Linked DNA regions of Homo sapiens. The protein of the gene in region 2 purifies or fractionates together with the protein of the main gene of each other region. This does not show direct contact. Each region holds a gene or a part of one and is shown on either strand. Other genes may lie near its edges.

Evidence for each region.
Region 1: the proteins of EFNA4 (region 2) and BZW2 purify together in Homo sapiens (affinity purification with mass spectrometry; one large-scale study listed by BioGRID and IntAct). This does not show direct contact.
Region 3: the proteins of EFNA4 (region 2) and DYM purify together in Homo sapiens (affinity purification with mass spectrometry; one large-scale study listed by BioGRID and IntAct). This does not show direct contact.
Region 4: the proteins of EFNA4 (region 2) and SCAF1 purify together in Homo sapiens (affinity purification with mass spectrometry, with the first as the bait; one study listed by BioGRID). This does not show direct contact.

Annotation. Positions count from the first base shown.
Region 1 is NC_000007.14:16,701,681-16,705,180, forward strand, and holds part of BZW2 (eIF5-mimic protein 1), read left to right. Parts: intron 1-2,866; coding exon 2,867-2,989; intron 2,990-3,500. UniProt on the Homo sapiens protein: Translation initiation regulator which represses non-AUG initiated translation and repeat-associated non-AUG (RAN) initiated translation by acting as a competitive inhibitor of eukaryotic translation initiation factor 5 (EIF5) function.
Region 2 is NC_000001.11:155,062,260-155,066,539, reverse strand, and holds the start of EFNA4 (ephrin-A4 isoform a precursor), read right to left. Parts: upstream 2,801-4,280; 5' UTR 2,717-2,800; coding exon 2,604-2,716; exon of another isoform or gene 2,549-2,603; intron 2,099-2,548; exon of another isoform or gene 1,980-2,098; intron 1-1,979. Other genes in the region: EFNA4-EFNA3 protein precursor, read right to left, coding at 2,604-2,716; ADAM15 (disintegrin and metalloproteinase domain-containing protein 15 isoform 6 preproprotein), read right to left, coding at 4,038-4,080, 4,171-4,280. UniProt on the Homo sapiens protein: Cell surface GPI-bound ligand for Eph receptors, a family of receptor tyrosine kinases which are crucial for migration, repulsion and adhesion during neuronal, vascular and epithelial development.
Region 3 is NC_000018.10:49,450,646-49,454,145, forward strand, and holds part of DYM (dymeclin), read right to left. Parts: intron 1-3,500. UniProt on the Homo sapiens protein: Necessary for correct organization of Golgi apparatus. Involved in bone development.
Region 4 is NC_000019.10:49,645,209-49,648,708, reverse strand, and holds part of SCAF1 (splicing factor, arginine/serine-rich 19), read right to left. Parts: intron 3,356-3,500; coding exon 3,298-3,355; intron 2,602-3,297; coding exon 2,507-2,601; intron 2,216-2,506; exon of another isoform or gene 2,184-2,215; coding exon 2,083-2,183; intron 1,995-2,082; coding exon 1,879-1,994; intron 1-1,878.

The DNA.
Region 1 (3,500 bases), on a different chromosome or scaffold from region 2:
AAATTGAGAAATATTTATTTTTTCTCATCAAGTTAACAAATTTATTCCTTAAACGTGTGTTGAATCGATACTATAGGGCAGGTCTTTCATTAAATGCTGGAAATGAGATGAACAAAATATAGTCCCTGACTTCCTGAATTTCAGGATGTAGAAGAAAACAAAGAATTACACTCACCATGTCAATTGCTGAAATAAGCCTCACACAGAGGGTGTCAGAAGGGATAGGACCACAGAGGGAGGGCACCTAACTTGTTAAAGGTAATTTGGAGGGGGAGAAGTGAAGGCTCTCAAGGTACATGTATCTCACCAGACATTATGAAGAAGTTGGCCAGATAGAAGGGGAAAACATATATTCCAGTCTCTATGTGCCATCATACAATGTCTTCCTTTCTTACTGTCTTTTACTGTTATTCTATATTCCTAATAGGCATTTATGAAATATCCCACCAAAAATGGTTTCTCAGTTTTAATTAACTCTTTTCCCTACTTTATCCTTAGTGAGGGAAAAAATTGTCTGAATTCTTTGTCCCTCAAGGAGTTCCTTCCTTTTCAGACCTTTCCTTTCACTAAATAGAAGTTTAATTTCTTCTTAAACTCTTCGATGTTCATACTTTGCCTCATATGGTGCTCTGTGTAGATACTTCAGTAGCTTTTAATTAATAATTCTCTGGTACTAGAAGTTTGATCTTTCAGCAAGTAGTTGTTACTACCCTGGGTTCTTCTAAGAACTCCACATTGCGCCGTTAATATGTAGACTTATTTTAAATTCTCCTTCCTATTCTTAACATTAAATATTCTCAATTAATGGTAACTTAAGAATATCAAGGCACAAGATTTGCAATAAACAATGCATTTGATAGGTTTTACCTATCATTTAGTGTGCTTTTCACAAGCACTGACATTGACAAGCATTTTAGTAGTTGCATGGTCTCCTTCAGCCTCTGTGAGGCAATAAAACACAGGAATGTGCTCTCAACCTTCAAAAGGAAAGCTCAGACAAATAGTATCACTAAACTGCAGTCTACATCAGCTTTCCAACCTGTACTTTGTATCATCCTCAATTCATTAAGGTGTGGAGAAAAAAAACAATTCTCCTTTCCATGTTTGTCACAGTTTAAAATTATATTGTTTGTGCAGAACATTAATAATGATAGTTTAATAGTGCATGAATATAATTTATAAACTCAAAAATATACATATGTTGGGTGTATATGCTCAAAATTATCCTACAGGCAGGAAGACATGATCCAAACAGTTTGATAATTACTGATCTAATCATAAGCATCTTAAAGATAATTTACAAGTTATATAAAAGGGTCTTTTAAAATCCCTGTTAATGTTCTTTAAAAGTCTCTGCAAGGCAGTCTTACACAATAACAGGTCACTTCCTCGGGACACAACTGCCTGCTCCTCAGCTCTATGACAATTAGGCTCTGATGGCTGGTAGAAATTTCTTTTATCTCAGTGGAGAGCTGGAAACAAAGAGCTAAAATAACTAGAAGCTAAGAATAAGTCTACAGGACCCCTGATTGTAGCTCTTACATCCAGGCTCTATAAGTAAATCCAGACTTCTTGCTTCCTTTGCAAAATGTAATGTTTTTAGTGATGATAATAAACATGTTTTTTTAAAAAACCTTTTATTTTCATAAACAAATCATGTTCATTTTAGTCAGCTCAGCCTCTTCAATTTAATTCAAGAACATTTTCCAAGAGCCAATAATTCTTTAAAAATAAAAAAAGCCAATGTTTTTGTTATGAAACTACCAGTGATGTTTTAAATGAAAACAATATTAAATTGTTTCTGTCATTTTCATAAGTTGAAATTATATTTTAACTGAAAAGATATCATTAAAGTAATTTATTAACATTATATGGCTTTATCAGTATTTGTAATGAATTGAGCACATCTCGGGGACAATAATAAATGCTTTGTACCTGTTTTCTGTCTCGTTTCCCACTACAGATTCCCAAACAACAACCCATTAGAACATTGGAACATTAGAAGAATGTTAGAACAACCCATTAGAACATTGGGAGACTATGTACACTTATTTTTATATTCTCCTTCCTATTCTTAACATTAAATACTCTCAATTAATGTTATGTTGAGAATATCAAGGCACATTTGTGGAATTTAGAGTTTTAGACAAAAGATAGTTAACATTTTTTGTTGTTTTTAGAAACCTGTAGGAAATTAGCTAATATGTCTATTTTGTCTTAATGTAGTAGAGGAAAAATATTACTCTTGTAATTTGGGATATACTGTGGGAAAATAAGTCGTGATTTAGTGATGGAGAAAGTGTAGAACTTCAGTTTAGGTGTGTATTACTCCCACAACATAGCCCAGAAGTTCCTCTTTATATCTAATTGCTAACATCATTATTGCATACTATCTACATTTTTTTCCTTTGTCATTTTTCTCCTAAAAAAAGAAAATCCCAATCTCCTTAAAAGACACTGGTCATTTGAGGTTACTCTTTAATCAAGATATGGTTGAACTTGGCAGGACCCAAAATGTTCTAAAATGCTGGAATTGCTGGTTCATTTGCAAAATTACAAAACAATTCTATTTCCTACCAGCAAATTAGCACTGTGAGAGATTTCCAAGTCCTAGTAGTGAGCTATAGGCTTGCATTATATCATGCCTAAGAAGATGTATATCATCATCATCAGTACTTAAGCCTTTAGTAAGCTATCAAAATATGGCACTATGCTACATGAAAATCAACTTGGTTCCTCTCTTCTGATAAGTAACAGAATGCTTTATATTTAAAATGATTGCTTTCTATTAAACTGTAATACATGAAGTTGTTTTGAAACATGACATTTGTATAGTAACTTTGAAATCTTTGATTTAAAATTGCAGCTGATGTTCTGAGCGAAGAAGCAATACTGAAATGGTATAAGGAAGCACATGTTGCTAAAGGCAAAAGTGTTTTTCTTGACCAGATGAAGAAATTTGTTGAGTGGTTACAAAATGCAGAAGAAGGTATGATTCTGTTTACAAACATTGATGACCTTTAAACACTGTCTCATTATATGTCAAAATATTTACCTCTTCCACAGATTTTACTTGATTTTCTAAAACTAAAATTCTAGAGTTATCTTTCGTATCAAACATTTTGCCAACATCTTAGCTTTCCTTTCTGAAATCACGGCAATAAAAATCTCTACATGTAAAAACAAAGAAAGAAATGAAATGCTTAAATTATCCACTCTGATGGAGGACAATAAGGAAGAAATGATTAGTAGATGTGAAAGGAGAAAAATACATTTAGCTTAATCACGCATTATGGAATTCTATAGATTTTTATGACACCTTTACCAATTAACTGGCAATTTTAAATAATGGAAATATAAAGTGGAAGGATAATAATGAGTAAGAGTGAATTCAGGCCAGGTGTGGTGGCTCACACCTGTAATCCCAGCACTTTGGGAAGCAGAGGTGGGTGGATCACCTGAGGTCAGGAGTTTGAGAGCAGGCTGGCCAACATAGTGAA
Region 2 (4,280 bases):
GAGATGATCGATTCACAGGTTCCGAGAGGCTAAGACCTGCAGTGCCCATAACCACACAGCTTAGATGTGAGAAGGAGGGTCACCACACCCTGTCCTACAGGCTGGAGCTGCCACACACCTCTCTAGCTCCAGTGCCCAACACTCAATGTGGTATAGCACCAGGCTTGATCAATGTCAGGTGGATGGATGCTGTGAAGAAGCTGGGCAGAGAGGCAGGAGGTACAGTTGCACACAGTGCAGCTGCAGACACAGAGGTGGAAACAGGGGTTGGGAAAGGTCTCCTCAAACAGATATAAAGTGAGGAACACTGTCCTTTAGACTGACTTCAACCCAAGGGTGAAAAGAATGTCACGGTAAAAAAAGAATGAGGGAGGCCAGGTGTGGTGGCTCACATCTGAATCCCAGCACTTTGGGAGGCCGAGGTGGGAGGATCGCTTGAGGCCAGGAGTTCAAGACCAGCCTGGGCAACATGGTGAGACTGTCTCTACCATAAATAAATAAATAGGCTGGGCGCGGTGGCTCACGCTTGTAATCCCAGCACTTTGGGAGGCTGAGGCGGGCGGATCATGAGGTCAGGAGATCAAGACCATCCTGGCTAACACGGTGAAACCCCGTCTCTACTAAGAATATAAAAAGAAAACTAGCCGGGCGTGGTGGCGGGCACCTGTAGTCCCAGCTACTTGGGAGGTTGAGGCAGGAGAATGGCGTGAACCCGGGAGGCGGAGCTTGCAGTGAGCCGAGATTGCGCCACTGCACTCCAGCCTGGGAGACAGAGCGAGACTCCATCTCAAAAAATAAATAAATAAATAAATAAATAAATAAATAAATAAATAAATAAAGGCCATGAGTGGTGGTGCACTCCTGTAGTCCCAGCTACTTGGGAGGCTGAGGCGGGAGGATCCTTAGAGTCCGCAAGTTCCTGTAGTGAGCTATTATGCCACCGCACTACAGCCTGGGTGACAGAGCAAGACCCTGTCTCTAAATTCTAAAAATTAAAAAAAAAAAAAAAAAAAGAATGAGGGAGTGGGTGCTAGGTGCCTCCCTTTTTTGGCCAGGAGGAGCAAGTGCCAGGCATGGGGGGAGTCCACATACTACCCAGTCTTCAGTCTTCTCAGGACTCCCTTCCCCACCTCTTGGGAGCTGCCTGGGGAAGCCAGCACAGGTGGGAAGGGCTGGAAGGGGCTGCTCCCCACAGTACTGAATGCTGCATGAACCACCCCCCATACCACAAACACAGCGAAGCATGACTTAGGAAAAGCCTCCAGTGGGTGGTCCAAGGACGACCTGTATCAGTTCTGATTAGAAATGAAGATTCCTGGGCTCAGCCAGCCCAGACTTACTAGAACGCAAGCTGAGCAAGGACAGGGCCTTGGTAAGTTTTGTTCTACTGCATCCCCCGTGCCTGGAAAAGTGCCCAGCACAGGACAGTGTTCAATAAATATTTGTGGATTGAATGAATGAGCCAGAAACCTTAAGATTGGGGGGTGAGAAACCTGAATTTTTAACAGGTCCTCCAAGTGATTCAGAAGCTTTGGTCTGTGACAGAGATAGAGAATTCAGAGTCCAAGGACAACAAAAGCTCTTATCACTTGTTATTGGTATTGTAATGACCTGTCTTTATGCAGGCTCTCCTGCCTGCGCCTGTTCTCCAGAGAGTCTGTGGAATCCCAGAGGGCAGGGTCTTGATCTTCTCATCTATATAGTTAATCCCCTGCAACCTAGCACAGGGCCGGGCACACACAGTATGTGTTTAATAAATAAATGTTAGTGAGTGAAGAAATGAATAGTCACAGATTGTCTCAAGTAGAAAATCAGAAAGAAAAACAGATAGGAAATAGGAGAGGCAGGGAGACTTGGGGAGGGGGATGGAAACAGTAAAATATACTAAGGTTCAAAGGCAGGCAGCTCAGGAGAGAGAAAGAAATAATAGTTTATATCTGTACAGCCTGAGCCTCTTTCACATACATGACCTCACTTACCCTGCCAGACTTCCCAGGGTACTAGGTATTATTAGCCCATTATACAGGTGAGATAAATGAGGTTAGGAAGGTCACGAGACTTGCCCAGAGGTGATTCGGCTAGAAGGGCAGGGCTGACACTGGAAAGAAACAGAAGGACCAATAAAGACAGAGATGAAAGCAGAGATAGCAAATGAGATCAGGAGACAGAGTGAGAGCCAGAGGTGAGACCCAGCGGGCAGGAGAGTAACCCACGCTCTTTCATAAGAGTAAAGCCCCCTCCCTCGCTCTCAAGTTCGTCAGCCACAGCTCCAGCCTGCGGGAGGCTGGGGATCGCCAGGAGAGCAGCGAGGGGGGCGGAGCCCGGAGTGCGGGCAAAGGCCCCCCCAGCTCCATGCTCCAAGACCCCCTAGACAACCCTTGGGGCTGGGGTCTTCTGCCTGCCCCCCAACACATGCGGGCTGTGGGGAGACCCAGGGCGCGCCTCGCCCCTCGCCCCTCCCCCCTCCCCCGCCGGCTCAAACAAAGGAGCCCCGGCGCGCGGCCAGGCTCAGGCGGCGCCGCGCAAAGAGCGGGTGGCGGGCGCGCGCAAAGCCCGGGAGCGCGCAGACTTGGCTGTGCGCTCGCCCGGTTCGGCCCGGCTACCTGGGGTTACTGGAGTTCCAGTAGACTACGTGGCGGAGGCTGGAGCCCCCGCGCAGAGGGGAGCCGAGGAACGCGGCCCAGAGGACAGTCCGCAGCAGGGGCAGCAGCCGCATCGCCCCCGAGGTCCGGTTTGGTCTGGCCTGGCAGGTCCCGGCCCGCTTCACAGTCGAGGAGAGAAAGGTACAAAGTGAAGAGGGAAGTTGCGGAAAGGGGAGTGGGGTACGGAGATTCACTGACCCCGCCCCTGAATAACTTTCCGCCAATGGGAGCGCGTCTCCTCCTCTCCACCCAGCGCCAACTCCAGTTAACCCTCTGTGCACCGCAGCGCGCGCCAGGTTCGCCAAAGCTTCCACTGAGGCTGCACCGCACTGCGAGGGGGCGGGAAGGAAGGACGTATTCCAACAGCAGTATTTTTAGGGAGGTCATCTCTTTCGTGTCTGCTTTAGTGCAGGGTAGACTGCCTTATTAGAAGTTTGGAAGATTTTAAATAAGGGTACATAACCTTTGCCCAGATAGGGGAAAGTGAGGCGCGGGCGAGGATCCATGAAGCCTGTCCAACCACCTTCATGCACTGCCCCGTTTTCTTTGCACATCTAGGGACAGTGCAAGCGGAAGGGACAACACAGCTCTGGGACCACCTTCCCTAAAGAGCCTTAGGTGGCGCGCTAGATGCTCACTTTAGGATTGGCGTCTGTCCCTTGCCGCTCCACACCTTCGTTCCGGGCTGGGGGCCCACGCGGCCCCAGTCCCTAAGACGAAGTAATGAGGTGGTTGCGGCCTGTACAAAGCACCTTTGTTCCCGATCCCTCAGGTGGCGGCGGCGGAGGGGGAGGAGGCAGGTGCGCGGCCTTGGGATCGTGGGAGCAGCCGCCGCCCCGCTCCGCCCTGGCTCCTGGGCTCTGGGAGCATCAGCCAGATCCACTTTTCCCAGCCAATGGTCAGAGTGGGGACGGCAGGTCCAACAGCTTGACAGATTGCGCCGAAAGCCACCCCAGTCTGGGCAGAGGGAAGCTGCGAGCATCCCGGGGACACACGCCGACCCTTTCTGGTACTCCCGCCCCACACAGCCCGCCCTCGTCTGAGGCGGCAGCGTCTTCTGGCGGCCAAACCTGGAACCGCAGCAGGAGCGACCCGGGTTCTAGAAGCAGACAAACTCTGGGGAACGCTCCCAAGATGTCACGTTTATTGCAACTGAGCAGAGACAGGCTGTGCGGACCTTCCTCAATCCCGTCCAACCCCCAGCCCCTCCCCAAGCCCCCGCTGCAACTACGCCGGCAGGTCCGCAGAGTGTTGCTTGACAGCGCGTGGCGGTGCCCGGAGTCTTAAGACACCGCCAGTCTCTGGCGCCTTCAGTCATGGTAGGGGACTCCAGAGGGCACGCCCGCCTCTTGAAGCCCTAAGTCCGGCTTGGAGGCAGCGGAACCTCCGGAGAGGTCAGAGGTAGAGCGAGGACACTGTCGGAGGCGGTGGCGCTGGTCTGGATTGCGGGAAGCCAAGAAAAAAGAGTCAGAGGCCCCTTTCCCCCAGGTCACTCGCCCCGCCCACCCATGCCCAGGGCTCCTCCTACCTGGAGGGTACCACTAGGGGCGGGATTCCAGCCCCTGGGCCGGGCAGGTCACCCGATGGGCACCGGCCCTGGGGGTCGGCAGGCAGTGGCTTCCTTGGGGGTGGGGGCTT
Region 3 (3,500 bases), on a different chromosome or scaffold from region 2:
TTTAGTCACATTAGAATTGCCAAAACGATGTCCAATCTTCTTTAAGTTATATTTTGGTGAATAATACTAATATATGTTCCAAAATTGTATGGGATTTCTAAAATTCTAATGTCTAAGTATATACTATCAATCATAATTAAGGTTAACTAAACTTTTTCCGTCATGTTTTTAACTGTAACCTGGAAATTTTGTCATGCACAGACAATTGTTGTTTTGCTTTGTTCCTTCTGAAAAGACAGTTTATAATCAAGCTATATTAAGGACTTTCAACAGGTGTCCTCAAATGCAGGTTTTTAACAGCTTTGAAGATTGTAACATTGGAAGAGAGAAAGAACGTACAGGACTCATGAACTGAAATGTTCACAAATATCAAGCAAAACAAGAATTGACTAAATGGACTACACTCAGAAAGCTAAAGCAATCTTTTTGACTTTTGCTTGGAATATTGCTGATCCTTGGTTTGTTTTTCAGAGTCAAGGAAACTTATTTTGAACTATTTACAGCCTTTAATAATTGAGTAAGGTATACTCCTGTGAACAAAACTTGAAGCATGATTGTTTCTCTCTGCCTGGTTCCTCTAATCTGTGAGAACTCTTAACTTATGGCAATATAGTTGTTTGCATCAGTGAAATAAGAATCCATTTTTCTTTTTCAACAGGACACAAATGGAAAAACTGGCTATTTTATCAAGGCTTTGACTGGAAGTGTATGCTTCCCTTTAAGGAGTCAACCTCCACTTGCAGAGCTGAAAAAGCCCCATGGGAAGAACTGGCCTCATACCTTGTCTACACAGTCCCCGCACAGGGTTCCTAACCTTTGGTCAGTAAAGAATGTCACTTTCTAACAGGTCCAGGAGCTCCAAGTTTATCTTGGGACCTTAAGAGAAAAGGATCACCCAACTCACAGGTATTTGAAGATACAAACCCATGCTGGGCTCAGCTTTAAGAAGTCTTATCTGAGATTTCTTGTGGAACAGAGTTCCATCGAAGCCAATCCAAAAGGACTATGCAGAAATAATTACTCTTGCTGAACTTTATGCAAATAACAAGGCCAAATATAAGACTAAGGTTTATTCTACAAACAACACGGTCCTATCATAATTTGTTTTTACCAAAATCAGGACTAGAGAGAGAAAATATGCTCCAAAGCTTATCATACATTTGTCATTAAATCCTAGTCACATTAATTGTTTTTAAGTTGTGTGCCTACATTTTAGACTAACACTGCTTATTCCTGTGAATCAAGTGGTGATCTCCTGAAGCTTACAAGAAACAAAAAGAGATGGGTAACACAAAAATCTGGATACCTTGGCAAATAAAATTTTAGATGGAAAGTATCTACTACACCACACTTGTGGGAATTGCTATACTCACTCTACTATTTGCAGTAGGGTTATACATGGCAGTGTGTCTGGAATTGGTGGATTCTTGGTCTCATTGACTTCAAGAATGAAGCCACAGACCCTCACAGTGAGTGTTACAGTTCTTCAAGGCGGCATGTCCAGAGTTTGTTCCTTCTGATGTTCGGATGTGTTCGGAGTTTCTTCCTTCTGGTGGGTTCGTGCTCTCGCTGGCTTAGGAGTGAAGCGGCAGACCTTCGCGGTGAGTGTTACAGCTCATAAAGGCAGTGTGGACCCAAAGAGTGAGCAGCAGCAAGATTTATTGCAAAGAGTGAAAGAACAAAGCTCCCGCAGTGTGGAAGGGGACCTGAGCGGGTTGCCATTGCTGGTTCAGGCAGCCTGCTTTTATTCCCTTATCTGGCCCCACCCACATCCTGCTGATTTGGTCCATTTTACAGAGAGCTGATTGGTCTGTTTTGACAGGGTGCTGATTGGTGCGTTTACAATCCCTGAGCTAGATATAAAGATTCTCCAAGTCCCCACCAGATTAGCTAGATACAGAGTGCTGATTGGTGCATTTACAAACCTTGAGCTAGACACAGAGTGCTGACTGGCGTATCTACAATCCCTCAGCTAGACATAAAGGTTCTCCAAGTCACTGCCGTGGGCTCCTGCGTGGCCTGAGCCTCCCTGACGAGCGCCGCTCCCTGCTCCCCAGCGCCTGGTCCCATCAACCGCCCAAGGGCTGAGGAGTGCAGGCGCACAGCGCGGGACTGGCAGGCAGCTCTGCCTGCGGCCCTGGTGCAGGATCCACCAGGTGAAGCCAGCTGGGCTCCTGAGTCTAGTGGGGACTTGGAGAACCTTTATGTCTAGCTAAGGGATTGCAGATACACCAATCAGCACTCTGTGTCTAGCTCAAGGTTTGTGAACAGACCAATCAGCACCCTGTGTCTAGGCTCAGGGTTTGAGGATGCACCAATCGGCACTCTGTATCTAGCTAATCTGGTGGGGACTTGGAGAATCTTTATGTCTAGCTAAGGGATTGTAAATACACCAATCAGCACTCTGTGTCTAGCTCAAGGTTTGTAAATGTACCAATCCACACCCTGTGTCTAGCTCAAGGTTTGTAAATGCACCAATCAGCACTCTGTATCTAGCTCAGGGTTTGTAAATATACCAATCAGTACTCTGTATCTAGCTAATCTAGGGGGGACTTGGAGAACTTTTGTGTCGAGCTCAGGGATTGTACACGCACCAATCAGCACCCTGTAAAATGGACCAATCAGCAGGATGTGGGTGGGGCCAGATAAGGGAATAAAAGCAGGCTGCCCCAACCAGCAGTGGCAACCGGCTCAGGTCCCCTTCCACACTGCGGGAGCTTTGTTCTTTCGCTCTTTGCAATAAATCTTGTTGCTGCTCACTCTTTGGGTCCACACTGCCTTTATGAGCTGTAACACTCACTGCGAAGGTCTGCAGCTTCACTCCTGAAGCCAGCGAGAGCACGAACCCACCAGAAGGAAGAAACTCCGAACACATCCGAAAATCAGAAGGAACAAACTCCACACACGCCGCCTTTAAGAACTGTAACACTCACCGTGAGGGTCCGTGGCTTCATTCTTGAAGTCAATGAGACCAAGAACCCACCAATTCTGGACACAATAGCACCTTCTAACTGAAATACTGGAAAGAGAGTTTTCATTGTTGTAGAATTTGCTTAATTATTATCCTGATAGCAGGGATAATTACCAACAAAAAGGAAGCACGAAAGTTTTACTAACACCGAGTTTGCTAGAACTTCTTATTGGGTTTGGTAATATGTCACACCCTGGCTATGCAAAGAAGGTTATAAAGGAAAGAGATTTTCTGTGGAAGTCATGAAGGGATTGATAACTGCAGGAAAGATCTAGCCAAGGTTAACACTAAAGTTACTCCAGCCACCCAAATCCAATGCCACTTATCCTAAAAGGAATGTTACTTTTATATTAACATTTCAACAACATCTGGTGGAGGCAAACCAGTGTTACAACCCATCAGAATAGCAACAGAATCAAACTCCAAATGATGCTGCAGACAGAACCACACACGGACATGCCTTTCTTCCAAGGACCCTTAGATTGACCCCAGGAGGAGCCCTAGCTGCTGATCCCCACATGATGCCCCT
Region 4 (3,500 bases), on a different chromosome or scaffold from region 2:
GAGCCACCGTGCCCAGCCCTACAGCTTCTGATTTTAAAGAAATTGAAACACTTTTGTGGGCCCCTAAGAATGTCATAAGTCCTAGGCACCATATCACTGTACTTAATGGATAAATCATTTCCAGCTGTTAAAAAAAAAGGGGGGGGGGTGTGGCAGGCATGGTGGCTCATGCCTGTGATCTCAGCAGTTTGAGAGGCCAAGGCAGGAGGATTGCTTGAGCTCTGGAGTTTAAGACCAGCCTGCGCAACATATCAAGACCTCATCTCTATTAAAAATTTTAAAAAAATAAAAAATAAAGGCTGGGCGTGGTGGCTCACGCCCATAATCCCAGCAGTTTGGGAGGTTGAGGCAGGCGGATCACTTCAGGTCAGGAGTTTGAGACCAGCCTGGCCAACACAGTGAAACCCTACCTCTACTAAAAATACAAAAATTAGCTCAATGTGGTGGCATGCGCACCTATAATCCCTGCTACTCAGGAGGCTGAGGCAGGAGAGAATCACTTGAACCCGGGAGACGGAGGTTGCAGAGAGACTAGACCCCACTACTGCACTCCGGCCTAGGTGACACAGTAAGACTCCATCTCAAAAAAAGAAAAAAGAAAAAAAAAAACTAGCCAGGCATGGTGGCATGCACCTGTAGTCCCAGCTACTCCAGAGACTGAGACAACAGGATAACTTGAACCGGGGAATTTGAGGCTGCAGTGAGCTGTGACTGTGCCACTGCACTCTAGCCTGGGGGACGCAGTGAGACCCTGTCTCAAAAAAAACAAACAAGGTAGCAGGGCACAGTGGCTCACGCCTGTAATCCCAGCACTGTGGGAGGCTGAGGCGGGCGGATCACTTGAGGTCAAGAGATCAAGGCCATCCTGGCCAGCATGGTGAAACCCCATCTCTACTAAAACTACGAAAATTAGCTGGGTGTGGTGGCATGCACCTTGTAGTCCCAGCTACTCAGGAGGCTGAGGCAGGAGAATCGCTTGTACTCGGGAAGTGGAGGTTGCAGTGAGCTGAGATTATGCCACTGCACTCCAGCCTGGGCGACACAGCGAAACAAGGTAAACAAGGTAAACATGACCTGGCACAGAGTGGTGTGCCTGCTCTACCACAGAACTGGTGCTCACGGCTCACAGCTGGTGCCCATAGCTGACTGCACCTTCTTCTCCTCTCCCTCCAACCCCTCCTCCAAATACAGATGTTCACGTAGAAGGAAGGCCTAAACCCAGGGTTCTCAACAGAGTCCAGGGCTCAGCAGCATGTATTGTTTAAAATGAAAATTCCCAGGTCCCACCCCAGACCTGCAGAATCAGAACTCTTGGGAGTGGGCCCAGTGATGTGCATAGTAACAAGTCCTCCTTGCAACTGAGATGTGCGTTCGCGTTTGGTCTAAAGGGCTCACAGGGTTACCGTTGTGTGTGGGGTTGGAGGAAGAGATTCCTCCTTGGGCAGCGCACATCTCAGACATCAAAAACTTGGGCTTCAGACTCAGACACACCAGGGCTCAAGGCCCAGGCACCCCACGGAGCATCTGGCTGTGCGCCCTTGGGCAAGTGCCTGCCCTTTTTCAGGCTGTCTGCTTCTCTGAAGATAGAGATTCGAAGAGTCCCCCTCCTGGGGAGATGAACGCCCAGTGCAGTGACACTAATACTTAGCGTGCCGAAACCAGTTGTCACACACGCTGACCACTCCCACATAGCCCCAGCACATCAGTTTTTACTTTATGTACATCTGTATGCGCCTACAGCCTTAATCACGTCTAATACGAAGAGAAGGGAAAGGTTTTGTCTAAATAACATGATCACCGCTACCATCACTACCAAAAACAGCCGATCCCCACACAACTCCACGACCACCTGCCCAGCTCCGCCCTGGCCCCACATACCCGTTTTGCCCGTCCTCCAGGCCCTGAGACGGGGCAGCAGGCTGGGCACAGGCAGAGGGATGGGATCTCTGTCCCCGATTCGGACCTCAGCCACCAGCTCCAGCATGTCCTCACTTCTGCAAGGCGGAAGGGGTGGGTGAGCCTCAGGGGTGCTTCTGGCTCTCACGCTGAGGCCTCTCCCACTCCAGCTGCCCAGCTACTCACTCGCCAGGCCGCAGGTCCAGGCGGCTGGGAACCCAGGTATCCGGGGGATCCAGGACACTCACCAGCCCTGCGAGGAAGCTGTCCGTGGCCATGTCCAACACCTGGAAGAGGCCAGAGAGGCTCTACGCCGTCCCTGGTCACATGAAGACTGGCAAATCCTGCTTCCCCACTCCCTAACCTCTCAGGAACCCAGACATCTAAGATCCCCAAGAAAACTGAGGATCTAATTCCTATAGCCTGACTGCCATCAACACTCAAAGCTCAGGCCCACAGATCAGGCCCCCAGACTCTCCAACATTGCCCCTGGTCAGCATCGCAGAGCCAGGAGTCCAGGTCCCCAAACCCCATTCCCCCAGACTCAGGCCCCCATCCCTTCCTCCCTGATACCCGTGAGCCAGGCCCCCAGCCCCCTCTTCTTACTCACAGTAGCCGTGTCAGTGCCCCCTGATTCCTGGGAACGGGGCTCTGACCGTGGACTCCGGCAGCGCCGCCATCGAAGGCCATGACACCGAGAGCCATCTGGTGAGAGATTTGCATGGGGGATTGGACACAGGGGACTTGCTGCAGAGACTTGCGGGGTAGAGGAAAGAGGAGCTTGATCTAGTTCCTGACAGCGGAACCAGCCTCCCGCATGCTCTCCAGGCCTCCATGCGCCACCTCCCAGGAGGACTTCCCAGCACCCACTTCAGAGGCTGCGACGCTCAGCCATTCGTCCTCCTGTCTGCCCTCAGACACCTCAACCTGGCATTCAGGCCTTGCTGGGATCCAGTCCCCACAGACCTCTCCTGCCTCCCCCAACCCCACTCACACCCTCCTGCATGCCAGCCCCAAGGAAGCCCAGCGCAGCCCCTCGCCGCTGCACCCGTGCTGTAGGCCTGCTGCAGCTGATCAGGCTTCCCTCTAATCCTAGGTCCTTAGACTCTTCTAGGTCCTTAGAGAGCCGTTCACTGTCCCTGCTCGGGGAAGGTGCCCTGACCCGTCTCCCACCATGCTAGCTCAAGTGGGCCTCCTGCCCTCTCCCAGCACTGTGCCTGTCTCCCTTCCACTGCACACTAGGCCCTTCCAAGGCAGCTACAGGGTGTCTGCCCATTTTTGGCTCCCCATGCCAGCACAAGGGTGGCACCCAGGAGGCTTCAGAAAAGCTTGTATGAATGACATTAGGATAAAGAATGCAGAGAGGGGGCAGGGGCTAAAAGGAACCGGAAGCCGCCATACCTTTATCATTGGGCAGGTCCCCCTGCAGGGAGCTTCCCACAGCCTGCTGGATGGCTCGCTGGGGAAGGGGGGAAGAACCAAGCGTCAGAGGACCCAGGCAGATGCTTTGCAACCTCTGCCCCTTGGGAGACAGACATCCCAGACACTGACAGCTAGACTCAAGTGCTTCAAGGGAGCCAAGAGTCCAGCGCCCCTGCCTCAGG